Linked DNA regions of Homo sapiens. The gene in region 7 interacts genetically with the main gene of each other region. Each region holds a gene or a part of one and is shown on either strand. Other genes may lie near its edges. The genes, in order: OGA, MBTD1, SUPT16H, CRACD, MAP4K4, MYO10 and ACACA.

The links.
Region 1: changes in ACACA (region 7) and OGA together harm fitness less than expected from each alone (positive genetic interaction), as found in Homo sapiens cells (one large-scale study listed by BioGRID).
Region 2: changes in ACACA (region 7) and MBTD1 together harm fitness more than expected from each alone (negative genetic interaction), as found in Homo sapiens cells (one large-scale study listed by BioGRID).
Region 3: changes in ACACA (region 7) and SUPT16H together harm fitness more than expected from each alone (negative genetic interaction), as found in Homo sapiens cells (one large-scale study listed by BioGRID).
Region 4: changes in ACACA (region 7) and CRACD together harm fitness less than expected from each alone (positive genetic interaction), as found in Homo sapiens cells (one large-scale study listed by BioGRID).
Region 5: changes in ACACA (region 7) and MAP4K4 together harm fitness more than expected from each alone (negative genetic interaction), as found in Homo sapiens cells (one large-scale study listed by BioGRID).
Region 6: changes in ACACA (region 7) and MYO10 together harm fitness more than expected from each alone (negative genetic interaction), as found in Homo sapiens cells (one large-scale study listed by BioGRID).

What each region holds. Positions count from the first base shown.
Region 1 is NC_000010.11:101,801,445-101,804,944, reverse strand, and holds part of OGA (protein O-GlcNAcase), read left to right. Parts: intron 1-925; coding exon 926-1,210; intron 1,211-3,500.
Region 2 is NC_000017.11:51,190,550-51,194,049, reverse strand, and holds part of MBTD1 (MBT domain-containing protein 1), read left to right. Parts: intron 1-539; coding exon 540-622; intron 623-1,033; coding exon 1,034-1,268; intron 1,269-1,769; coding exon 1,770-1,847; intron 1,848-3,500. UniProt on the Homo sapiens protein: Chromatin reader component of the NuA4 histone acetyltransferase complex, a multiprotein complex involved in transcriptional activation of select genes principally by acetylation of nucleosomal histones H4 and H2A.
Region 3 is NC_000014.9:21,360,020-21,363,519, reverse strand, and holds part of SUPT16H (FACT complex subunit SPT16), read left to right. Parts: intron 1-16; coding exon 17-82; intron 83-191; coding exon 192-287; intron 288-370; coding exon 371-486; intron 487-572; coding exon 573-726; intron 727-1,195; coding exon 1,196-1,323; intron 1,324-2,306; coding exon 2,307-2,442; intron 2,443-2,547; coding exon 2,548-2,674; intron 2,675-2,986; coding exon 2,987-3,105; intron 3,106-3,500. UniProt on the Homo sapiens protein: Component of the FACT complex, a general chromatin factor that acts to reorganize nucleosomes. The FACT complex is involved in multiple processes that require DNA as a template such as mRNA elongation, DNA replication and DNA repair.
Region 4 is NC_000004.12:56,052,098-56,055,597, reverse strand, and holds part of CRACD (capping protein-inhibiting regulator of actin dynamics), read right to left. Parts: intron 1-3,500. UniProt on the Homo sapiens protein: Involved in epithelial cell integrity by acting on the maintenance of the actin cytoskeleton. Positively regulates the actin polymerization, by inhibiting the interaction of actin-capping proteins with actin.
Region 5 is NC_000002.12:101,868,707-101,872,206, reverse strand, and holds part of MAP4K4 (mitogen-activated protein kinase kinase kinase kinase 4), read right to left. Parts: intron 2,586-3,500; coding exon 2,410-2,585; intron 1,913-2,409; coding exon 1,792-1,912; intron 714-1,791; coding exon 522-713; intron 1-521.
Region 6 is NC_000005.10:16,926,289-16,929,788, reverse strand, and holds part of MYO10 (unconventional myosin-X), read left to right. Parts: intron 1-3,500. UniProt on the Homo sapiens protein: Myosins are actin-based motor molecules with ATPase activity. Unconventional myosins serve in intracellular movements. MYO10 binds to actin filaments and actin bundles and functions as a plus end-directed motor.
Region 7 is NC_000017.11:37,256,837-37,260,336, reverse strand, and holds part of ACACA (acetyl-CoA carboxylase 1), read left to right. Parts: intron 1-806; coding exon 807-977; intron 978-1,963; coding exon 1,964-2,125; intron 2,126-2,470; coding exon 2,471-2,634; intron 2,635-3,500. UniProt on the Homo sapiens protein: Cytosolic enzyme that catalyzes the carboxylation of acetyl-CoA to malonyl-CoA, the first and rate-limiting step of de novo fatty acid biosynthesis.

The DNA.
Region 1 (3,500 bases), on a different chromosome or scaffold from region 7:
AAATAAAGCTCAGTAAAAGACATGTTGTGTTTTCAAAAGAAAAATTGTGGCTGGGTGCATTGGTTCGTGCCTGTAATCCCAGTGCTGTGGGAGGCTTGAGTTGAGGTAGGAGGATCGCTTGAGGCCAGGAGTTTAAGATTAGCCTGGGCAACATAGCAAGCCCTTATCTGTACAAAAAAATTTTAAATTACTGTGACATGGTGGGGCACACCTGTAGTCCCAGCTACTTGGGAGGCTGAGGTGAGAGGATTGCTTGAGCTCAGGAGCTCAAGGCTGCAGTGAGCCATGATTACTCCATTGCACTTCAGCCTGGGTAACAGAGGAGACCCTGTCTCAGAAAAAGAAACGTTGTTATAAAATGTACATGTAAGGGGCCAGGCGCAGTGGCTCACGCCTGTAATCCCAGCACTTTGGGAGGCCGAGGCAGGCGGATCACAGGGTGAGGAGATCGAGACCATCCTGGCTAACACAGTGAAACCCCATCTCTACTAAAAAATACAAAAAATTAGCCAGGCGTGGTGGAGGGCGCCTGTAGTCCCAGCTACTCAGGAGGCTGAAGCAGGAGAATGGTGTGAATCCAGGAGGCGGAGCTTACAGTGAGCCGAGATCACACCACTGTACTCCAGCCTGGGCGACACAGCGAGACTCTGTCTCAAAAAAAAAAAAAAAAAAGTACACGTAAGGAAAACAATAAAAAGTTATATATGCAGTATATTTTAAAGAACCATGATTCTTTTTTTTAAATATATTTTTTAATTTAAAATAAAAAGATAGGGTCTCGCTGTGTTGCCCAGGCTGGTCCGAACTCCTGGGCTCAAATGATCTGCCCACCTCTGCCTCCCAGAGTGCTGGGATTACAGTTATGAGCCAATGCGTCTAGCCAAGAACCATGATTCTTTTAACGAACGGTTGTCGTTATTTCTAGGTCCCAAAGTTGTTTCTAAAGAAATTCCAGTAGAGTCCATCGAAGAGGTTTCTAAGATTATTAAGAGAGCTCCAGTAATCTGGGATAACATTCATGCTAATGATTATGATCAGAAGAGACTGTTTCTGGGCCCGTACAAAGGAAGATCCACAGAACTCATCCCACGGTTAAAAGGAGTCCTCACTAATCCAAATTGTGAATTTGAAGCCAACTACGTTGCTATCCACACCCTTGCCACCTGGTACAAATCAAACATGAATGGAGTGAGAAAAGATGTAGTGATGAGTAAGTAGCCTGTACTTGATCTTTCACCTTGGGAGGAGAGCTGGGGTTAACTAGAGCCAGTGGAAAGTATGCATTCCTTTGTCATCACAACTTAAACAGTTTTATTTATTTTTTTAAAAACGTATTTTGTTTTACTAAGGAGGAAACAAAACCAAGTGGTTTTATTATGGTATGTTGTTTCATTCTGTTGATGAAGATGTATATGATAGAAGAAAGGTTGAGTGTCTTTGGACAAGTCACTTAACCTCTTTGCCTTAGTTTTTTTTTTTTTGTTTTTTTTTTTTTTAGTATGATTCAGAAGCAGCGTGGTGGCTCGCTTATAATCCCAGGAAATGCACTCCAGCCTGGACAACAGATGAAAATCCTATGAAATAAATAAAAATAAAATATGGTTCAGTCTTTGAAGTCTGAGTACTAGAGGAGACAGTCTTTTAAGTGTTTCCATTATCTCTAGAATCATTCGGATAAAATGTATTTTCAGGCAATTTTATTGAAAAGGATATTTTAGATAACTAGATACTCTTGAGTCACTTAGATCATTTAGATTCAGCTTACATTTATCTTTTATGGAACATACTCTTTTTTTTTTTTTTTGAGATGGAGTTTTGCTCCATCGCCCAGGCTGGAGTGCAGTGGCGCAATCTCAGCTCGCTGCAACCTCTGCTTCCCAGGTTCAAGCGATTCTCCAGCCTCAGCCTCCCGAGTAGCTGGGATTGCAGGCACACCCGGCTTTTTTTTTTTTTTTTTTTTTTTTTTAAAGTAGAGACAGGGTTTCACCATCTTGGCCAGACTGGTCTCGAACTCCTGACCTTAGGTGATCCACCTGCCTCGGCCTCCCAGAGTGCTGGGATTACAGGCATGAGCCACCCTGCCTGGCCGAATGGAATACAGTCTTATTTTAGACATTGGCTTACTAATTTTTAATTTATGAAAAATCTCTAATTAATAGAGTTCTAAGTAAGGTGCTTGATAATTATTTACATTTAAATAATCTGTCATGGGGCAGATGCATGTTCATGGGCACTGAGGGGGCAAAGAATAAAGTAGTTTTTTTTTTTTCTTTTTGAGATGGAGTCTTGCTCTTGTTGCCCAGGCTGGAGTGCAGTGGCGCAATCTCAGCTCCCTGCAACCTCCGCCTCCCAGGTTCAAGTGATTCTCCTGTCTCAGCCTCCCGAGTAGCTGGGATTACAGGCATGCGCCACCATGCCTGGCTAATTTTGTATTTTTAGTAGAGACGGGGTTTCTCCATGTCAGGCTGGTCTTGAACTCCTGACCTCAGGTGATCCGCCCTCCTGGGCTTCCCAAAGTGCTGGGATTACAGGCGTGAGCCATCGCGCCCAGCCATTCCTACTTTTGAGAAACAGTCTAGTGTTGGGTAAGGCTTATAGGCAATTGTACTATAGTGTGATAAGTGTTGTAATAGTTTAATTTATAAAGTGCTGTGTGAACACGGGAGAGAGTGATTATTTTTGCTAAGAGATTTCACAGACTTTTAAGCTGGATCAAAGTATGAGGAGAGTTTGCTGGGCGTTAAAGGTTTGTGGGCTGGAGGTTAAAAACACTGAACACTGAAAATTTTTTTTTTTCTTTGAGACAGAGCCTCGCTCTGTTGCCCAGGCTGGAGTGCAGTGGCGCGATCTTGGCTCATTGCAACCTCTGCCTCCCTGGTTCAAGCGAGTCTCTGGCCTCAGCCTCCTGAGTAGCTGGGATTACTGGCGCACACCACCCCATCTGGCTGATTTTTATAGTTTTAGTAGAGACAGGGTTTCACCATGTTGGTCAGGCTGGTCTCGAACTCCTGACCTGGTGATCTGCCTGCCTCTGCCTCCCAGAGTTCTGGGATTACAGGCGTGAGCCACTGTGCCCAGCCTGAACACTGAACTTTTGAAGTTCCCTGAATTTTGGCCCATTTTGGCTACTGAAGTGTCATGATAGTATGTAGTAATATTAATAGTTGTCATCTGTTTCTCAATTCCATACCTCTGCTTTGAATTGTTTATTGAATTAATGTCTCCCTTTTGTTTGGCTCAGTCATTGTCATCCTCCTCCCCTCAATAAAAAACAAATTGGGAATATAATTTAAATGCTGTCAGCGTACATGGCACTTAACTCCTACATCTTTTAAGGCACAGCAAGGAACATACTAAGGGTGGCAGACACTATCCAAACCTGGGACATACGTAGGAAATATTAAGGAAAGCTAAGAATAGAGAGTTTTTAAGTACAAAATCAAAAAATTCAGACTTAATTTTCTCTACCACTATCCTGGCTCAGAGCTTTGTTGCCTTAT
Region 2 (3,500 bases), about 14 Mb from region 7:
CATTGTAGTAAACAGAAAAAGAGAGCCACTTTTGCGTTAGACTAAGTAGGCACACCAGTGTTTCTAGAGAGGGGAGGGAAATCTGTGTAACATGGAGGAATTATTGCACTCAGCAGTATAAATCATATAGGCCAGGTGCAGTGGCTCACGCCAATAATCCCAGCACTTTGGGAGACTCAGGTAGGAGGATTGCTTGAGACCAGGAGTTTGAGAACAACCCGGGCAACATAGGGAGACCCTGTCTCTACTAAAAACAACAAAAAATTAGCCTGTCACAGTGGCATGTGCCTGTAGTCCCAGCTACTAGAGAGGCTAAGGCAGGAGGATCACTTGAGCCCTGGAGGTTGAGGCTGCAGTAAGCCTTTGAGGGCACTACTGCACTCCAGCCTGGGCGACAGAGCAAGACCCTGTCTCAAAAAAAATAAAGTTGATCATATAACCTATGCTCTTAAGATTTTTTGTACTGTTACTTTTTGTCTGCATTTTAATATTATGCTAATTTTAAATGAACTGCTAGTTAAACCAGTTGTGTTTTTTAGGTTACACAAAACTTCCTTTTAAATGGTTTGACTACCTCAGGGAAACTGGCTCCATTGCAGCACCAGTAAAACTATTTAATAAGGTAAATTTAAATGGCAGCATAATTATGTGAGGACTTATTAATGCCCCACAAATACAATTTATGTTCATAAAAATGTCTTTGCCTTGTATTAGAATTTCTTAGTGGAGATATAATATAAACAAATATAGCAATGAAACAATATAAATATTTTCTTTACCTAGGAATCAAAACTTGTTTCCAAACTATGTTTCGTTTTTAATCTGAAGGAAATAGAAATGAAGATTTTTCCTAACTAGTTTTTAAATACTTCACCTTCGTACTATGTTTAAATAGTTAAAGAATTATTTGGAATTTATGGTTTATAATTATGTTATTTAGCTAGTCGCTTCTGTTTTTTGCTTTCTTAGTGATAGTAGGGTTGTGCATTCTTTCTTCTTCATACCAATATTAATGTTTTCTTCTCTGTGTCAGGATGTTCCAAATCACGGATTTCGTGTAGGAATGAAATTAGAAGCAGTAGATCTCATGGAGCCACGTTTAATATGTGTAGCCACAGTAACTCGAATTATTCATCGTCTCTTGAGGATACATTTTGATGGATGGGAAGAAGAGTATGATCAGTGGGTAGACTGTGAGTCACCTGACCTCTATCCTGTAGGGTGGTGTCAGTTAACTGGATATCAACTACAGCCTCCAGCATCACAGTGTAAGTTGGTATACAGAAAAGGTGTCCTTTTGTAAAAATCAGCAATTCTCCAGAGGACTATCTCACATAAGTCATCTTATGAGCTCACAGGACAAGAATATACCTATGTCTGATTGGTTGCCAGGTAAGACATTAAGACTCAACAACAATATCACAGAATCAGACCATGTGTCCCATGGCAATGTGAATCCAATAGTCAATTACATAATGACTATAGAAACACAACAGTCACCAAATTAAACTAGACTTACTATTTTAGTGAGTTAAAAATTACATACTAAAAGTTTATTGGTAGGTAATAAATGCTTTTGAGTAAATAGTGGAAAATGTCTCATGTTGAGGCTATGGTTTTGTAGGAACAAGTACCCTTATTTTCAGAGCATCATGTACTTAAGTATAATGGTCTTGGTAAAGATAGTTCATATAAGTTGTATCTAGACAACTGTATCGTCTAAATTGTAAACAATTATCTAGTACCAATTTTCCCTTTTTATTTTTCAGCATCAAGAGAAAACCAATCAGCTTCATCAAAACAGAAGAAAAAGGCTAAGTCCCAGCAATACAAAGGACATAAGAAAAGTGGGTCACCACGTGGTGTTCACATACATTTTCTAATTGTTAACTAATTGGAGTCACAGTATTCTTGGACAGAAAATGATATATCTTGTGAGAACTGATGATTGTGCATTATGTATTATGCTTAAAGGTGCAGTATGCCATAAAAGGCAAACCCTTGCAATAATGAGAAACACTGATATTTTACTAACAGGAGAAATTATTACCACAGTATTTAAAGTATACGTGGTAAAGAATAGAGTCTGTGAATGATTCTTGAAATAATATGTAAAACCTACTGAAAGTTAATCCTTTTTAAAAACTTTATTTAAAAAGAAAAATTAGCAGCCAGGTGCAGTGGCTCACGCCTGTAATCCCAGCACTTTAGGAGGCCGAGGCTGGCAGATCACAAGGTCAGGAGATCGAGACCATCCTGGCTAACACGGTGAAACCCTGTCTCCACCAAAAATACAAAAAATCTGCCGGGCGTGGTGGCACACGCCTGAAGTCCCAGCTACTCAGGAGGCTGAGGCAAGAGAATCACTTGAACCCAGGAGGCAGAGGTTGCAGTGAGCCAAGATCACGCCACTACATTCCAGCTGGGCAACACAGCAAGACTCTGTCTCAAAAAAAAAAAAAAAAATTAGCAGATGCTTGATGCTTACAGTAGATGTGAAGCCTAATAAACCCATTTTTCCTAGAAAGCAAAACTTTCTAGAGTGATACTGGTAAGAAATCCAAGTTGATGGCAAACAAGCTTTACCAAATTTTTCTAGAAATGCTTTCTATACTAAAAAATTAGCCGGGTGTGGTGGTGCACGCCTGTAATCCCAGCTACTTGGGAGGCTGAGGCAGGAGAATTGCTTGAACCCAGGAGGCGGAGGTTGAGGTGAGCCGAGATCGTGCCATTGCACTCTAGCCTGGGCAACAAGAGCAAAACTCCATCTCGAAAAAAAAAAAAAAAAAGAAATTCTTTCTATACTATATTTTACCTTACAGTGAATTGTTGGCATAAGCCAAAGTAATATAAAATATATTGATAACTATGTTTGATTTTTTTTATCTTATTTCCCCACCATAGAAAGCCATAGCTTTCTCTCTTCATAAAACTTGTCATAGAATGTTTCATTCTTTTTTGAGACAAGGCCTTACTTTGTTGCTCAGGCTGGAATGGAGTGCAGTGGCACAATCTCCGCTCACTACAGCCTTAACCTTCCCTGGCTCAAGCAGTCCTCCCACCCCAGCCTCCTGAGTAGCTTGGACCACAGGCATGTGTTGCCACACACCCAGCTAAGTTTTGTATTTTTTTGTAGAGACAGAGTCTTGCCACGTTGCCCAGGCTGGTCTCAAACTTTTGGGCTCAAGCACTCTGCCCACCTCAGCCTCCCAAAGTGCTGGGATTACAGGCATGAGCCACCACACATGGCCATATTTCATTTCATTCTTAGATAAGGTTATATATATATATATATATATTTTTTTTTTTTTTTTTTTTTTTTTTTTTTGAGACAGAGTCTCAGTCTGTCGCCCAGACTGGAATGCAGTGGTATGATCTTGGCTCACTGCAGCCTCGACTTCTCGGGTACAAGCAATTCTCCCACCTCAGCCCCTGGAGTAGCTGGGACTACAGGAGTATACCACCATGCCCAACTCGTTTTTATATTTTTATAGAAATGG
Region 3 (3,500 bases), on a different chromosome or scaffold from region 7:
CTCCTTTTAATTCTAGGATGGCCCAGCTACTGTTCTCACTTCTGTGAAGAAGAAAGTGAAGAATGTGGGGATTTTCCTAAAGGTAGGAAGAAGATAGATAAGTAGTATAGGAAGTTTAGGATATAAAGAAGTTAAATAATATTGGCTAAAATAATTAAAATTTCATTTTTTGATTATGACTTTTTCCATAGAATGAAGATGAGGAAGAAGAGGAGGAGGAGAAAGATGAGGCAGAGGACCTTTTGGGAAGAGGTTCTCGGGCAGCATTACTTACAGAAAGAACAAGAGTAAGTTTACTATTTTAAATTACATTGATCTCGGCTGTCATATGGCTCACGTGTTGTGATAAATTGGATTTTCCATTCACCAGAATGAAATGACTGCAGAAGAGAAGCGAAGAGCACATCAGAAAGAACTAGCGGCTCAACTCAATGAAGAAGCAAAGAGGCGATTGACTGAACAAAAGGGAGAACAGCAGATTCAGAAGTAAGAGTTTTCACTGAGCAGTGAGATCATCTGAGGGTTCTGTGGGACTGCAGAAATTTCTCAGTTGTTTTTTTATCCCACTCCAGAGCTCGCAAGTCTAATGTGTCCTATAAAAACCCATCTCTGATGCCTAAGGAACCACATATTCGGGAAATGAAGATCTACATCGATAAGAAATATGAGACTGTAATAATGCCCGTGTTTGGCATTGCAACACCGTTTCACATTGCCACAATCAAGGTACTGACATTCAGTGCATCAGGTTTCATCCAAACTGTTGCTTAAAATAGTAATTGTATTTGCCATAAATAATCTGCATTCATCATGTCTCCCACTTTTGACTCCTTCAGACTCTGTTCAGTTACTGACATCCCTCTTGTCTTGTCATTCTCCTTCCTCTTTCAGTTTTTTTCACTTAGTAGAAAGCTAAACTAGTCTAGAAACATAATTTGCCTATCTTTCTTTCAACTTCGTTTAATCATTGTTTAACTTTTAGTTGTATTCATGGTACAAGGTACTTTGAGAATTCAGAGATTTTTTTGGGAAAAGGATACTTCGTTATTAAAAAGATAAATTATGTAAATTTATTAGATTTAGATTAAGGTTAAGAGCGGTCAATTTGTAACTCCTAACTTAATTTTAACATCTCTGTAACTACTAATCTCTAGGAAAGAAATCTGTTTACTTTTTATGCTTTTCCTTTGAACAGAATATAAGTATGTCCGTGGAAGGAGATTATACTTACTTGCGAATCAACTTTTATTGCCCAGGCAGTGCTCTGGGCAGGAATGAAGGCAACATCTTTCCTAACCCTGAAGCGACTTTTGTCAAGGAAATGTGAGTCCCCAAGAAAAGTCATACCCAGATTCATCTTGTCTGGAGTGGTACTCTCAGAAACATTTCATTGTCTGTGCTACATTTTCCCTACCTAGTAAATGTCAAAGCCTTCCTCATTGGTACTTGTTTCGGATCGCCTTCTTGACTTTGTACTATTTTCAGGATGGATCCCAATTTAGAATCTTCTTGAAGATACTATATATTTACTAAACATATTTTGAGCCTGGGTAATATAGTGAGACCTTGTCTCTTCTAAAAAATAATTAACCAGGGGTGGTGGTGTGCACCCGTCATCCAGCTACTGTGGAGGCTGAGGTGAGAGGATTCCTTGAGCCTGGGAGGTTGAGGCTGCAGTGAGCCCTGATCTTGCCTGTACTCCATCCAGCCTGAGCAACAGAACGAGACCTTGTCTCAAAAAAAAAATAATTATGAAAATAAGTGTTAAAAGTAATAAACATATATTGCAGTAGAATCTTCAAATAAGAAAACTGGTGCCACATTGGATTCTATGATTTCATGGTGTGAAATGGGATAATTTGGGGATGTTATACCAGATTTGAAAAATGAAAAAAGAAGGAATGGGCATGCATGGTGGCTCACGCCTGTAATCCCAGCACTTCGGGAGGCAGAGGCAGGCAGATTACATGAGGCCAGGAGTTCAAGACCAGCCTGGTCAACATGGCAAAACCCTGTATCTGCTAAAAATACAAAAACTAGCCGGGCATGGTGGTGTGTACCTGTAATCCCAGGTACTTGGAAGGCTGAGGTGGGAGGATGGCTTGAACCCAGGAGGCGAAGGTTGCAGTGAGCTAAGATTGGGCCACTGCACTCCAGCCTGGGTGACAGAGGCACACCCTGTCTCAAAAAAAAAAAAAAAAAAAAAAAGCAAAGTAGAGATTAAGCTGCTTAGAAGATAAAGTAAATCAGTACAATTTCCCTGGCCTGAAAAAGAAATGTCTATAAATGCTGTTGCTTTTCTGCAGTACATACCGAGCATCAAATATTAAGGCACCCGGAGAACAGACAGTACCAGCCTTGAACCTTCAGAATGCTTTCCGAATTATTAAAGAAGTACAGAAACGTTATAAAACTCGAGAAGCTGAAGAGAAAGAGAAGGAGGTGAGCCTGAACACAGGCAAAACATTCTTACACAAAGAAGGACATGTATTTTTTGGAGACTTGTAAGGATATGTGACAATTCACATTAATTTTCTTCTTGCTTAGGGGATTGTAAAACAAGACTCACTGGTGATCAATCTAAACCGGAGTAATCCGAAACTGAAAGATCTATACATTCGCCCAAATATTGCCCAAAAGAGGATGCAAGGCTCACTGGAGGCCCATGTCAATGGTATGGATGATCTCTCCTGTACCTAGGCTTTCTCTTCAGGGCACATTTGTTAGGAATGACAGATCAGATAATAAAATATGACAAAGAGCCATCCGCCGGTTAGCTCAGTTGGTTAAAGCATGGTGCTAATAAAGTATGACAAGGAAATGCTGGGAGGAATCTACTTACACTGCTGTGTGGCCAGAAGGAAAGGAAAGCTCTATACAGCTGTTGGTGTTTCCTCTGACCCTGTGCAAATCAGCCAGAAGAGTTGCAGTGCCTTTTGGCCTAACTTAATTATACTGCTTGACATTTCTTCATTCTTTTCCCCAGGCTTCCGCTTCACATCTGTTCGAGGAGACAAAGTGGATATTTTGTACAATAATATTAAGCATGCTTTGTTCCAGCCCTGTGATGGAGAAATGATTATTGTCTTGCACTTTCACCTCAAGGTATACCTTTCTACTTAACTAGCTGTCAGCTCTTGGGCAAGACACTTCATTTCACTCAGCTTCTTTCCTATAAAATAGTGATGAAAGGGCTGGGCGCGGTGGCTCATGCCCACAATCCCAGCACTTTGGGAGGCCGAGGTGGGTGGATCACCTGAGGTCGGGAGTTCGACACCAGCCTGACCAACATGATGAAACCCCGTCTCTACTAAAAATACAAAAATTAGCCAGGCGTAGTGGCCAGCGCCTGTAATCCCAGCTACTTGAGAGGCCGAGGCAGGAAAATTGCTTGAACCTGGGAGGCGGAAGTTGCAGTGAGCCGAGATCGCGCCATTGTACTCCAGCCTGGGCGACAGCGTGTGAAAAACAAAAAACAAAAAAGTGATGAAAAAATCACC
Region 4 (3,500 bases), on a different chromosome or scaffold from region 7:
ATCCTGACTGCAATCATTTAGGGCAGCCTGGAATTCACCAGCAGTGTCTTAACAGCCCTGCTGGATCTGTCACAATCTTCCCTAAGAACATGAGCTGTGGCCCCCACCCGAGACCATAAATGGTATTGGCAATGGGGTTTGGAGTAATGTTTCCTCTTTCACAAATGGTGATCTTGGGACTATGGCCTCTCCTTTTTATTTCTCCCAAGTGAGGAAACAGCCCATTGTTAACAAGGGGTTAACAATTATATACAAGAATTTTCGCTGATTATTCCTTGAATCCGGCTTATCCTAGATTTAAATAATAATCAAGTTTTCAGACAACCTGTTTCCCGCTCCCTGTCTCCTTATCTTCCTTCTTGCCAGCCAATCCCTCCCCAGGTGAGTGGGGTGAGGCCAGTGAGCCTCCAGATAAGATCGTTCTTACCTTCCCTGGTAAAAACAAAATGCCTTTTTAGCAACTTGTCCTTCCTTTTTCTAATTCCTCTTAGCAGCTGCTACCTGCTCTTAAACTCTATTCTAACAACCGTTTCTAGTGGGCTAAATTTACTTCTGATTTAAATATTTTTTAAAGTGTTTCAGGGATGCAGCTTCTGTGTCTTTTCCTCAATTCATATTGAATACAGTACCAGTTTCAAAAGCAAGTTTTTCGACATTTCTTCTCAATCCCCTAAGTACGCCACTTGAAAAACACTGGAAACATCTGAAAGACCTGGTGAAGACTTTAAAAATCTGACTGAAATATTTATGTTTCCATTTCTGACATTTTAAATGGTATCACTTTTTCACATATAAAAGCTTTTACATATGGTTGTTCTATTTGGCTTCTTAAATATGTCTGATAACATGTGACTATAAGGCTGACAACATGTGACTATAAAAACATCTCTTCAGGGTTGTTACTCAGTTTTTTTATTTCCACAAAGTTACTTAATATGTATTTCTTTACTTTAGAGAAGAGTTTATAATCTGGTACTTCTCATATATGTGTGAAAATCATACATCTATGTAAACCTAAAATATGCATATGCATCTGCCTTAAAGCCACCAGAATAAATTAATATCTAAATTGATTTCGTTCTTATCTCTATGAATTTTCACATCAGGATAAAAAGGAGCCACTGAGTGGCGGCTCACGCTTGTAATCCCAGCACTTTGGGAGGCTGAGGCAAGGCAGGTAGATCACTTGAGCCCAAGAGTTCATGACCAGCCTAGGAAACAGAGAGAGACCACATCTCTACAAAAAATAATTAACCAGATGTGGTGGCATGCGCCTATGGTCCCAGCTATTCAGGAGGCTGAGCTAGGAGGATCACTTGAGCCCAGGAGGTAGAGGCTGCAGTGAGCCATGGTTACATCACTGCACTCCAGCCTGGGTGACAGAGCAAGACCCTAGAAATACATAAATAAAAACATAAATGAATAAAAGAATAAACAGGACACAAAATGTAAAGGTAGCCAAGTTTTGTATCTGCCTGAACATACAAATTACAATGACCACCCAATAAGTGGGCCATGTCCTGATGCTCACAAAAACTGTAACAATCCACTAAGGGTCAAGTAGTAGACAGAATTAATAAATACGCATAAAACACAGGCTTGCTGCAACTTTACACAATTTCATTAGCTGCAAAGTATATTTTGAGGGCCAGCCTAAGGATGAAATCTGATGTTCAAAAATAAATGCAATTATATCTATATTTGTTTACATCAAATCTTAATTTAAAAAGACTGATGAACAGAAATATATGGCTACTCAAACCACATAAATAAACCATGAAACTACTGTTCTTTGTCTAACATATCATCATGATCTACACAAATTCAGATTTTTAAATTGTCAGCTTTGAAAACACTAACCTTAATTCAACAAATAAACTGTTTAAATATATGGTTAAAAGTTTAAAGCCTCATGCACACAGGAGTATCCAAAGCTATAATGCAAGAGCAGTGGCATATTTATACATTTTTAGGCACCTGGTAATCATGTTATTTATGAGTTACACTCCTACATATAATAGCAATAATGCAAACCAGACACCATAGGTGTTTTAATGTAGAAGATATAAATGTAAAAAAAAAGTGAAATTTGCCTTTATTATATAAAAGCATCTATTTGTGTATTCTAAGTATTATTTATAAAATATATTTCCTGAAAAACGCCTTAATTCTTCCTGACAATGTGTTTCAAAGAGGGAAGTCCTAGAAATATCAAAATATTAAAATTAAAATACTGCTACAAATACACATAGGAAACGTGTAAAGAACTGAAAAACCAAAAAACAAAAAACGCTAATAGGATACTTGGTGGTGGTTTCTTAAAGTACTTTACAAAGTAAATACTTTTAGCACCTTGTGATTTTAAGACCAATCAATACACTATGAAGTACTCTTTTGTAGCTTGTAAGGCTTCATTTTGTGCCTTAACAAAAGCCGACATTCATTCGTAATGAAGTCTTTTTATAGTTACACAGCTATTTCATGTCTCTTAGGAAGATATATTAAACCTTTGGATGCTCAATAAAAATGACCAATTAATTGACTCTATCACAAAAACCTGAGAAGCTCTTACAAAATATTTACATCAAAGACCAGCTAAAGCCAGAAAGAATTACGTTATGCTTCCTTAACTTCCCTAAGTTGAAAACTGACTTGAAATGAGTCATTTCAAAGGAAACTACAAAAGATGTACCACAATGGGTAAATTCTCAATATCGACATTCAAATTTATGTTAAGGAAGAAATGAAACATCTTCAGAAATCACTATGAGGGAACATCAGAAAACCATGGGGGTTAAGAGGGCAGACAGGCTTTGGGATCAGAGAGAACTCAGTTTGAATCTTTGCTTCATCCCTCTCTAAATTTAGGACCTTGGGCAAGTTAATAAAAAGCTCTCTGAGTCTTAATTTCAATTATCAAATGTAAACACAAGGCCTACTTACAGGGCTGTTGTGAGAACTAAATTAGATAACATATATAAATAGACTACTTAGCACACAGTAACGTGACCATGAGAAATATTCAATAAATGATGGTAATTCCCAAGAAATGTTTAAGAACTTATTTTTAAATGTAATTTAGTATTCAAACTCCAATTGATGTTGTAAACCATTTGAAGAAAAGAAATAAAGATTCAACAACAGCTTTCTTAAATGCACTTAACCTGATTATCCTTAGCATTAGTGCTTTTCAAAGCGTAGTTCCTGACCCATTAATGGGATGTGAAATCATTTAGCGATCTCAACCAACATTTTTTAAATAAAATAGAATAAAAAATATAAGAATGCATTGCACATTCAAAGTCTAAGCATTACTTCATGAATTTTTTAATTACAGATATTTACAATGTATCTGTATACTGGGTGGCAAAGTAAAATGCATCTCTTACTGTGCAAAAATAAAAGTTTAGGCTGGGCGCAGTGGTTCATGCCTGTAATCCTAGTATTTTGGGAGGCCAAGGCAGGAGGATTGCTTGAGACCAGCCTGGGCAACACAGTGA
Region 5 (3,500 bases), on a different chromosome or scaffold from region 7:
AGAGTAATCAGCCAACAACCCACCCCCCAAACAAGAAAAAAAAAAAAAATCAGTTCTGTTTGAAAGAGATTCCTGTACAGGATAATAAGTTTGTCCAGATAAGGCCAAGCCTGCTGAACCGAATCTTCCTATATTTTATTTATTGGATAAAAAGAATGAAAAAGGCAGATTCCACAAATGACTATAAGAATTTCATGCCAAATACATAATACCGGTCTGAGGACAGAGCAATCATTTTATTTAGATTTTTAAAAAATAAACTAGATAAAGCCATGCAACTATACTTATCTACAGAACAGTAAACAGTGAACTGGCAAGTTTGGGGGAGCTGATCTAGGGTTAAGGGGTTTATATGCAGATCTGAAACATGTTACTTGGGGTTGGGGAGAAGGGTAGGTGACAGAGAAAGCAGGGTGGGAAGGGAAGGGGTGAGGGTGTTGGAAAGGTCTCCTTTGCAAACTAACTCCTAGGCAGTGCTGGTCTAACCCCAGGAAAGCAGCCAGCTGTGGTGCGAGACATACCTCATTAGCAGTGAGCTTGTCCTGGGGTGTCTGTGGGGACATGGTGGGTGTCGGCTGGCTGGAGGATGGGGAGGAGGAGGTGGAGGAAGTGGAGGAGGAATGGCTTTGCTGTAAGAGATCTGGCAAGAGGTGAATGCGACCGGCAAAGCCATTGCTCTCATGATGGCTGGCACGCTTTTGGTCAACTGTACTCTGTAGAAAAAACAGGCACACTTGTCTCGCTCAAGCGCTGCTAAAATTGCCTATGGCCCTATTGATAACTGCTTTAAGGTGCTGTGTGACTTATAAACTCTGCTAAATTACCAAGGAAAAACCAAAGAAATTAGCCTGAACTGCTCACACTTCCTCACCAAATGCCTAACTTGTGCCAACAGAATTCAAAGTACCTAATCTGGTGGCTGCACGGCTCGAGCAGTGAGTGTTTAATCTGGTTTATCTGTTGCGCTAGCTTCTGTTACCAAAACCAGTATCCTTTTTTTTTTCTTTTTAAATCTTTCTTTGCAAAGCTCCAGAAAGTACCTGTGGATTCTCTGAATCCTGGTCTTTTCCACATTCTTCCTACTTTCCATCCGAATGCATTGCCATAGCATGAAACACACTTAGGGCAAAGTCCAAAATACTAAATAGGTGCCCTGTTCTATTTAAATGAGAAGCGTATCACTTTAATTAAGTCTAAGCTAAGAAATGAACAGACAGTTATAAAGCTTAGTGATCCAAACTGAGCATATCTGGGTGGCACACATTTAATTATTCAACAAGTGAGAAAACTAACATTTTGGAACATAGAAGAGAAACCTCCCGAACCCTTCTGCTCTCCGAGTCTCTGGGCCTGTGATGAGGCTCGTCCTGCCTGCCTCACCCGCTCCCACTGTGGCACTGCAGACACTCAGAGCCCAGCGTGCTCTGCAGAGCCATGGTGGCTGCTCTGCCAGACTCCAGACCTGCTTCCTCACTCTGTGAGCCTGTTTAAGGACTCCCTGTGGCTTCTCTCCCGCTCAGACATAGACTGTGAGACTCAGCGCGGTGCTTGAATGAGGGCTGCCGCAGACATGCAGAGGAGCAGCGATGTGGGGTGGAGACTACTCGCTACCTTCTGGGCATGCAGTACACACCTGCCTCCCTAGCCCCCGACACTCGACACTTGACCCTCTGGGACTTGTTAACATGAAAACAGATGATGATGGAGAAACAGCATGAGTGAGTGAATGAGCAAGTGGGTTAATGACCACAGGAGAAGCTCAGCCTCTGACAACAGAGAAGACACGGGTACCTGGCGGACGATTAGAGTGCCCTCCTTGGATGGGGTCATGGCCGGCTCACTTTCTACATCATCATGGACAATCATGGTTTTCACAGATTCCGTTTCACCATTGCTCAAATTCAGAGATGACCTATGGAGAAAAAATCCAGACGTGAAAGGCCTTAATCTCTGGAGTCAAGGAGATCCTGTTTAGGCTTTTCGCCTTCTCAAAATCAAAACATGAGATGAGGCTACCGATATAAAGCCTCCTCCAAAAAAGCAACTGCTTAGCTTTCTCCCTTTAACAAAGAATTTCTTTCCAGTGCCATTTGTTTCTGAGCAAAAACTTAGAATGAATAATTATGGCTAATTAAAGTAGTTATACCAAACTGAAATTTCCCCTGGATCATATATCCTCAAATCAAAAGGAAAAAATAAAGTACACGCTGGGGTGCTGGGGGAAGCACTGACATATGCACACACCAACGAAGAGAAGGGGAAACACAAGGCGACCTGCTGCTGAATCCACGAGAACTACATAGTAAGTGCTCATGGGGTCACGGAATAGTCTAGGAACAACTAGGTCCCAGTGGAAAGCAGGCTCTGAGAGAATACTCTCATCCGCTCTAAAAGAGACCGGGGACTGACGCTGCTCTGGTGTCCTCTGGTCCTGAGGTGGACTCGTCAGCCCCTTCCTGCTCCACATCGTCGTCCTCCTCATCCGTCGTCCCCGACTCCTCACTGGATGAGGAGTAGTCCGTTACTTTGTGAGGTGGCCGTACATCTTCCACTGCTCGAAGCTCTTTGGCCAGTGCGGTCAGATCCTAAAGCAAAGGACAGAAAAGAGAGAGTAAGGCAAGCAGGAGCAGGGACAGGAGAAGATGAGAAGTTCTTTAACCATAAATTGCCACAATGTCAGTTTTGTAAGACTTTTATAGTTACCCAGTTTCATGAGAAAGTGAGCTCCTATGGCTTTTGATAGAAAAGACCAAATAAAGTCAAGAGAGAGATTAAAAAAAAAAAATAGAAGACACCAAAAAAAAGTCAAAGATGTCATATACAGTTCAAATCCCATGACAATAAAAAAAAGATCTGCTTATGTTAAGCTGATAGTATTACTGTTGTTTTTTAATATGAGGTAAAATTCTAGATCAACAAATGTATATACACAGACTCTTGGACTTTGTTGTAAGGAGATCTCCCTACATGACAAAGTCTTCTTTAGACTCATAAAAAAGGTTTTGAGAGACACATTTTTATTTTACTTCAACTTTTATTATTAAAAACTTCAAAGCGCTAAGGTTTAATATTTAATGTTTTTATTTACTAGTTATAGGATATTTATGAAATTTTAGTAATAAATATTAATATTTTACTAAAATCAACATTTTAGGTTTAATATTTTATTAATAAAAGTTGTAGAAACATAACTTCCCTCCCAAAACTCTTTAAATCAGGCTTATTTAACTAGAGGCTTGCTTTCTGGACTGACCCCTTTAAAGAAGACTTTGTCATATAGACATGTGTCTTTACACCAAAGCTCAAGGATCTGTGTATATACATTTGTTGATCTAGAATTTTACCTCATACTGAAAAAAAAAAAACTTCAAACCTACATTAAAATGAAAGGAGTGAAGTGAGCACTAGGATGCCACTGACATCTCACTTCACCGACTGTTCACAACCTGCCACATTCATGGACAAGTCTGTGACACATGAAGAGACACTGCGACCCTGAG
Region 6 (3,500 bases), on a different chromosome or scaffold from region 7:
AATTGCATCTGTACTGAACATGTAGACTTTTCCCCATGGATTTTGGTATCTGGGGAAGGTCTTGGAACCAGTTCCCTATAGATACATAGGGACAACTGTACTTACCATGTGCCAGGCATGTTGCTGGCACTTCACATTTAGTGACTCATTTAATCCCTTGAACAACCCTATGGGAAAGGCTCTATAATTATACCCAATCCATAGATGAAGAAAGTGAGGCACAGAGAGGTTAAGTAACTGACTCAGTGTCACACAGCTAGAAAACGATAGCCAGGATTTGAACCCAGACAGGCTGTGTCCAGAGCCACAGAGAGTTCTTCACTGCCATGCTTTTCTGTCCTGTTGATGTCCTTTGCCTTAAACTTGCGTCATCTTCTCTAGGCTCTCTGATGAAATGCCCTAAAAGTGGGCAGTTATTAAATGATTTTCAAGTGGAAAACTGCATGGGAGTTTAGGAAAACAAGTAGTCCACACCCTAGAAATGTTGAAAACTCCGCAGGAAAATGTTCATCAGCTTTTGAACATGCCACTGATTTGGCCGGGTGCAGTGGCTCATGCCTGTAATCCCAGCACTTTGGGAGGCCGAGGTGGGCGGATCACGAGGTCAGGAGATGGAGACCATCCTGGCTAACACGGTGAAACCCCCATCTCTACTAAAAATACAAAAAATGAGCCGGGCATGGTGGCGGGCACCTGTAGTCCCAGCTACTCGGGAGGCTGAGGCAGGAGAAGGGCGTGAACCCAGGAGGCGGAGCTTGCAGTGAGCTGAGATCGCGCCACTGCACTCCAGCCTGGGCGACAGAGCAAGACTCCGTCTCAAAAAAAAACCAAAAAAAAAACATGCCACTAATTTTTATTTGATTTGCTTTTTTTGGGAAAGCCAAGCGCCTTCTGTTTCCTTCTAAAAATGTGTGTGTGTGTTTTTGTTGTTGTTGTTGTTTTTTGAGATGGAGTCTTGCTCTGTCGCCCAGGCTGGAGTGCAATGGTGTGATCTCGGCTCACTGCAACCTCCACCTCCCAGGTTCAAGCGATTCTCCTGCCTTAGCCTCCCAAGTAGCTGGGACTACAGGCGCCTGCCACCACACCCGGCTAATTTTTGATATTTTTAGTAGAGATGGGGTTTCACCTTGTTGGCCAGAATGGTCTCGATTTCCAGACCTTGTGATCCACCCGTCACAGCCTCCCAAAGTGCTGGGATTACAGGTGTGAGCCGTCATGCCCGGCCCATAAAGTGTGGTTTCTAAAGCTGGTTGTCCCAACTTCATGAGGATAGTAGGAAGGTTTACATACTAAAGCACTTAGGGCCATGTGCTCATGCCTGTAATCCCAGCACTTTGGGAGGCCGAGGCAGGTGGATACCTGAGGTCAGGAGTTCGAGACCAGCCTGGGCAACATAGTGAAACCCTGTCTCTAATAAAATCCAAAAATTAGCTGGGCGTGGTGACATGGGCCTGTAATCGCAACTACTTGGAAGGCTGAGGCAGGAGAATCGGTTGAATCCGGGAGGTGAAGATTACGGTGAGCCACTGCACTCCAGCCTGGGTGACAGAGGGAGACTGTCTCCAAAATTGTAATAGTAATAATAAAAATATTAAAACAAAATAAAGCACTTAGAAAACAAGATGATTTGAGAAGTGTTTATTAAAAGAAAATGTGGGACTCATTTGTTTCCCTAATTCCAGCTGTCAATTAATTAGTGAAGTGTTACTTGAGGTTTTTTGATAGAATCTTCTTTTTCAGTTAAAGATTCTGAGTGCTTTGTTGGAGTTTCTTCATATCACCTATCATTTGCTTGTTAGCTTATCGATACCCATGGAACAGTTATTGACAGGACATTGGGTCGTTTTCCCAAGAGCATTCCTTGAATAAAACATTTTGCTGCCTTGCTAAGAGGTGTTCAGAAAATATTTCCACCAGGCCTAAAGTAAATCTAGCACCTCATGTCACATGACATCATGTCATCTAATGCTGCCAGTTACAGGAAAAGACATTAGAGTTTTGGGGACAAAGCCACAACACATCTGTTGAAATACAGCTAGAACAAGGGAGAAACATATGGGAATTGTCCAACTAATAGCTCTACCTTCACCCAGTCCGACTCCCTGCCTGCTCTTAAGGATTAAAATTGCCTCCGTATAAAAGCATTTTAAATTACGGCAGTTAAAGGCCGGGCGCGGTGGCTCAAGCCTGTAATCTCAGCACTTTGGGAGGCCGAGGCAGGAGGATCACGAGGTCAGGAGATCCAGACCATCCTGGCTAACATGGTGAAACCCCGTCTCTACTAAAAATACAAAAAACTAGCTGGGCGTGGTGGCTGGCACCTGTAGTCCCAGCTACTCGGGAGGATGAGGCAGGAGAATGGCATGAACCTGGGAGGCGGAGCTTCCAGTGAGCCGAGATTGTGCCACTGCACTCCAGCCTGGGCAACAGAGCAAGACTCCATCTCAATAAATAAATAAATAAACAAACAAACAAAAGAAAATACCATAAGCAGAAGACACAAAGAAGCTCCCATGGTGTGGCTCTTCATGTTTGTGGTAGATGCATTGAGACTTTTTTTTTATGCCTTCATATATATGTTTCTGATAAAACACACCTGTAATGTTTTTCACTGAAGAGTTGATTGAGAAAAGCTTTAAATATCATTTGTGGGGCCAGAGGCAAGAGTACAAATTCAGTTCCCATATCACATACCTAAACATTTAAAAGTTATAAACCATGCTTACAAATTGGTAAATAAAATGGCTTCTACTCTGCCTGGACAAATACATCTGTCATTAGGGCAGAATCAACAAACATGTTTAAAGCTATGGGTTTTATTGCTGAAAGTCAGCAAAATATCAAACATGAGTGAATTTAATTACAGTTGCCTATGTCTGGGTGTTCTGTTGATGTTTCATGAGTAATAAATACGTATACTCCATAGTATATTTTTCATAAATCTATTTTTTTGTCCATATTTTAGCAAACTCACTTGTTATGTGGTTAGAGTCAAGATTGTCACAATAGTTTGTTTTACGGACAGTAATACCAAGGTGGAGAACCTTTCTTTGTGGTTCTTAGATTGTTCTTTTTTTTTTTTTTGCTGGGACAGAGTCTTCCTCTTTCGCCCAGGCTGGAGTGTAGTGGCGCAATTTTGGCTCACTGCAACCTCCACCTCCCGAGTTCAAGCAATCCTTCTGCCTCAGCCTCCCACGTAGCTGGGATTACAAGTGTGTGCCACCATGCCTGGCTAATTTTTGTATTTACAGTAGAGACGGGGTTTCATCATGTTGGCCAGGCTGATCTGAAGCTTGTGACCTCAATTGATCCACTAGCCTTGGCCTCCGGAAGTTCTGGGATTACAGGCGTGAGCCACCCCACCTGGCCAGATTGTTCTTTTCTTAATCTAAGTCTAGAGATGGCCTGCTTTGCTGAGGCAGGACAGTAGTTACTGACATTGTCAGCGAAATTCATACAGCACTATTTAGATTAAAAAAAGAATGAGATTGCATATGATA
Region 7 (3,500 bases):
CAAAGCGAGACTCCATCTCCAAAAAAAAAAAAAAAAAAAATATATATATATATATATATATATATATATATATATATATATATATATGACTTGGGAGTTATGCATATCACTTACCAATGCTGGTGTCCTGTTTGTCAAAACTTAGCCACTAACCAGGCCAGGCATGGTGGCTCACGCCTGTAATCCCAGCACTTTGGTAGGCCAAGGCGAGTAGATCACTTGAGGTCAGGAGTTTGAGACCAGGCTGGCCAACATGGGGAAACCCCATCTCTACCAAAAATACAAAAATTAGCCAGGCATGGTGGCGCATGCCTGTAATCTCAGCTACTTGGGGGGCTGAGGCAGGAGAATCACTTGAACCCGGGAGGCAGAGTTTGCAGTGAGCCACGAGATTGTGCCACTGGACTCCAGCCCAGGAGACAGAGTGAGACTCTGTCTCAAAAAAAAAAAAAAAAATCTAGTCTCTAACTAGTTAGCTATGTTTCTAGGAAGAAGAGGAGCATATTGGAAATACTGGAAACTGGACAAGAGTCTGTCCCCATGTTTTTTTGTCTGCATGCATTTATGTCTGGTGGGGTGAGGTTGCTTTTGATGCAAAGTGAAAAATGCTCTTTTCTCCCGATTTTTCATTGAGTTTTTCATCCTTGTCCAGGGATATTGTATAATAATCAGAAATGTGCTCTCATGTGGCTAAAAGCTTTTGATGGCTCTTATACACACTGAACAGTTGAGTCAGTGAGAGGCTGTAGTGGTCTAGCAGTTGGATAAGGTGAGATACTTATGTTTGCTTATCTCTCTTCTTTGAGTGTGCGGTGAAACTTGCCAAAATGGTGGGTTATGTGAGTGCTGGGACTGTGGAATACCTGTACAGCCAGGATGGCAGCTTCTACTTTCTGGAATTGAATCCTCGGCTGCAGGTAGAGCACCCTTGTACAGAGATGGTGGCTGATGTCAATCTCCCTGCAGCACAGCTCCAGGTGAGTCTCCCTGATCTGGGTTGCAGAGCCTAGAAAAGTCAGAGAGGCCTGAAAAATGGGTTTAACCAGTGTGTGATAAGAGAAAAGCACCTCCTATCTGAGTCACACCTAATGGTCATTTCTCTTTCACCCTGTATGTGTTATGCATGTGTGGTTTGGTTTTCCTGATGTAGTACAGACATAGGAATGTTATTTTTTCTAGCCAGACACATCTGATATAATGTGTCATGTTTTAGAAATAAATGTTAATAATGTATGCTTTATTCAATTATTTAGCTATAGTAAACTTCACAACTTTGTATTATAATTATTCCCTACTCATTTTTGTTTTTTTACTAGTGTTCTTTATTGAAATAATTCTGCATCAGAGATTAGTGGTTGAAGTTTTTCCTTACAAGAGTGTGGTAGCACACATATATTTTTATAATTTGTAAAGTGCTTGCTGTCAATATTATTGTCTTCTCTCAGCCCAGGAAACAAATATTATGGAAAGCAGTAATAGTTAATGATAAGGCTTGATATTATTTTTATCTAACATTTGCCCACATCGAGAACACCTTCTGGGTTCCTATTAAAGACTAAAGATTTACTTACTTCCTCCAGTGGTTTGCAGGGATGGAAGAGATAATTATGACACAATTAAGACTTTCTAGCTGTCTGTTTTTGGATGGCTATTAACATTTACTCCTCTGTTGGATATTTTCATTCTTATTACGTGATGGAGAAATGACAACAGGGGAACTGGTGTCTGTTGCATTAGGAATGTGGGGACTTCTTTAGAAGTGGAGAATATTCTAACTACTTATCTGTAGTGATATATTGTATTTCAAGCAACTTAGAGTTGATGATTGTAGAATACAGGTTATAAAAATAGAATGTTTTAGGGAGTGGCTCCAAAAATAAAAATATTTTAGGTTATCTGATAGCCTCTACACTTTAAGGGAAGTAACTGAAAAATTAAAGATGTGTGTTTTATTACCTTTCAGATTGCCATGGGGATTCCTCTATATAGAATCAAGGATATCCGTATGATGTATGGGGTATCTCCCTGGGGTGATTCTCCCATTGATTTTGAAGATTCTGCACACGTTCCTTGTCCAAGGGGCCATGTTATTGCTGCTCGGATCACTAGTGAAAATCCAGATGAGGTAACCCATCACTTAAAAGGTTTATACCTCCTTTTAATGAACTTTAATGTTAAGATAGTATCTGAAAGTATACTTCTGAAATATCTTGGGACTTCCTCTGGAGTGGGAAACATAGAGGTTTCTCAGAGCAGATAAGTAAATGGTTGTTGCTTCATTGGTTACTTAATCCCACTTAAGTCACTGTAGAGTCTTCAGTGGGTCTGTGGCACTGGGTCTTGGCCTTTATCATTTTTGTGTGTCTTCTCTGCTTCTGTGTGTGATTAACAGAGAACTTAAACAATGAATATATAAATCTTCTCTTCCTTCGAAACATAATATGGTCTCTCATTCTTTATTCTCTAACAGGGTTTTAAGCCCAGCTCAGGAACAGTTCAGGAGCTAAATTTCCGCAGCAATAAGAATGTTTGGGGATATTTCAGTGTTGCTGCTGCAGGGGGACTTCATGAATTTGCTGATTCTCAGTTTGGTCACTGCTTTTCTTGGGGAGAAAACAGAGAAGAGGCAATTTCGTGAGTATAATAGCATTTGATTGCATTTTACAAAATAAATTTGTGCTAATCTTAAGTGAAGGTGTGAGCATGGGAATAGGAATCATCTGCTGTCAAAGTAATAATATGAACAACCTTTTTGAAGAAATTTTGAATATCTTTAATTACACTTGCATTCATGTTGTATTAAATTATGCAGTGCTTGGCAGATGTTTTTCTGTTTGTTGTTCTGAGCCTTTTGAAGTATTTTTCCTTTCAAATATTTTTGATAAATGTATAAAATTGATTGCTTTAAAGGTATCTTATTTTTCCACAGGAACAGTATTGTTATTGAGGGGAGGTAGATTCTTGGCCAAGAACTAGGTATCAAATAAATCATAGACTTTTATTTTATTTTTTTCTTGTGAGAAGACTTAAAATCTATTAGCAATTTTCAAGTACACAATCTATTGTTATGAGCCATAGTCACCATGATGTACTCTTATAGTTATTTAAAATAATAAAATTATACTGCTCATATTATGAAAAGGACATAAAGAAACTGTCTACATTGCTAATACAAGAGACCTTAGCATGCTGTATATAACAGCTTATGCAAATATAACTGCTATATCATAAATGTTAGATAATATTCTGTTAATCATAAACAATGAATATTAAATTAACAGCACTTTTGCTTGCCTAAAACATAGGGCTGAAGGAGGTAATTTTAACAGCTTAGATCTTTTGGAATATCTATCTAAAATTGAAACTTGAACTAGTTCTTTTCTGTTTTTTAATGGTTTATTGCCTTGTATCAAACATTTAATACCATTCCCTTTACCTTTGTACTGTACATGGAGTAGGTAATTAATAAGTGTTTATTAGTATTAATTACTAATAAATAG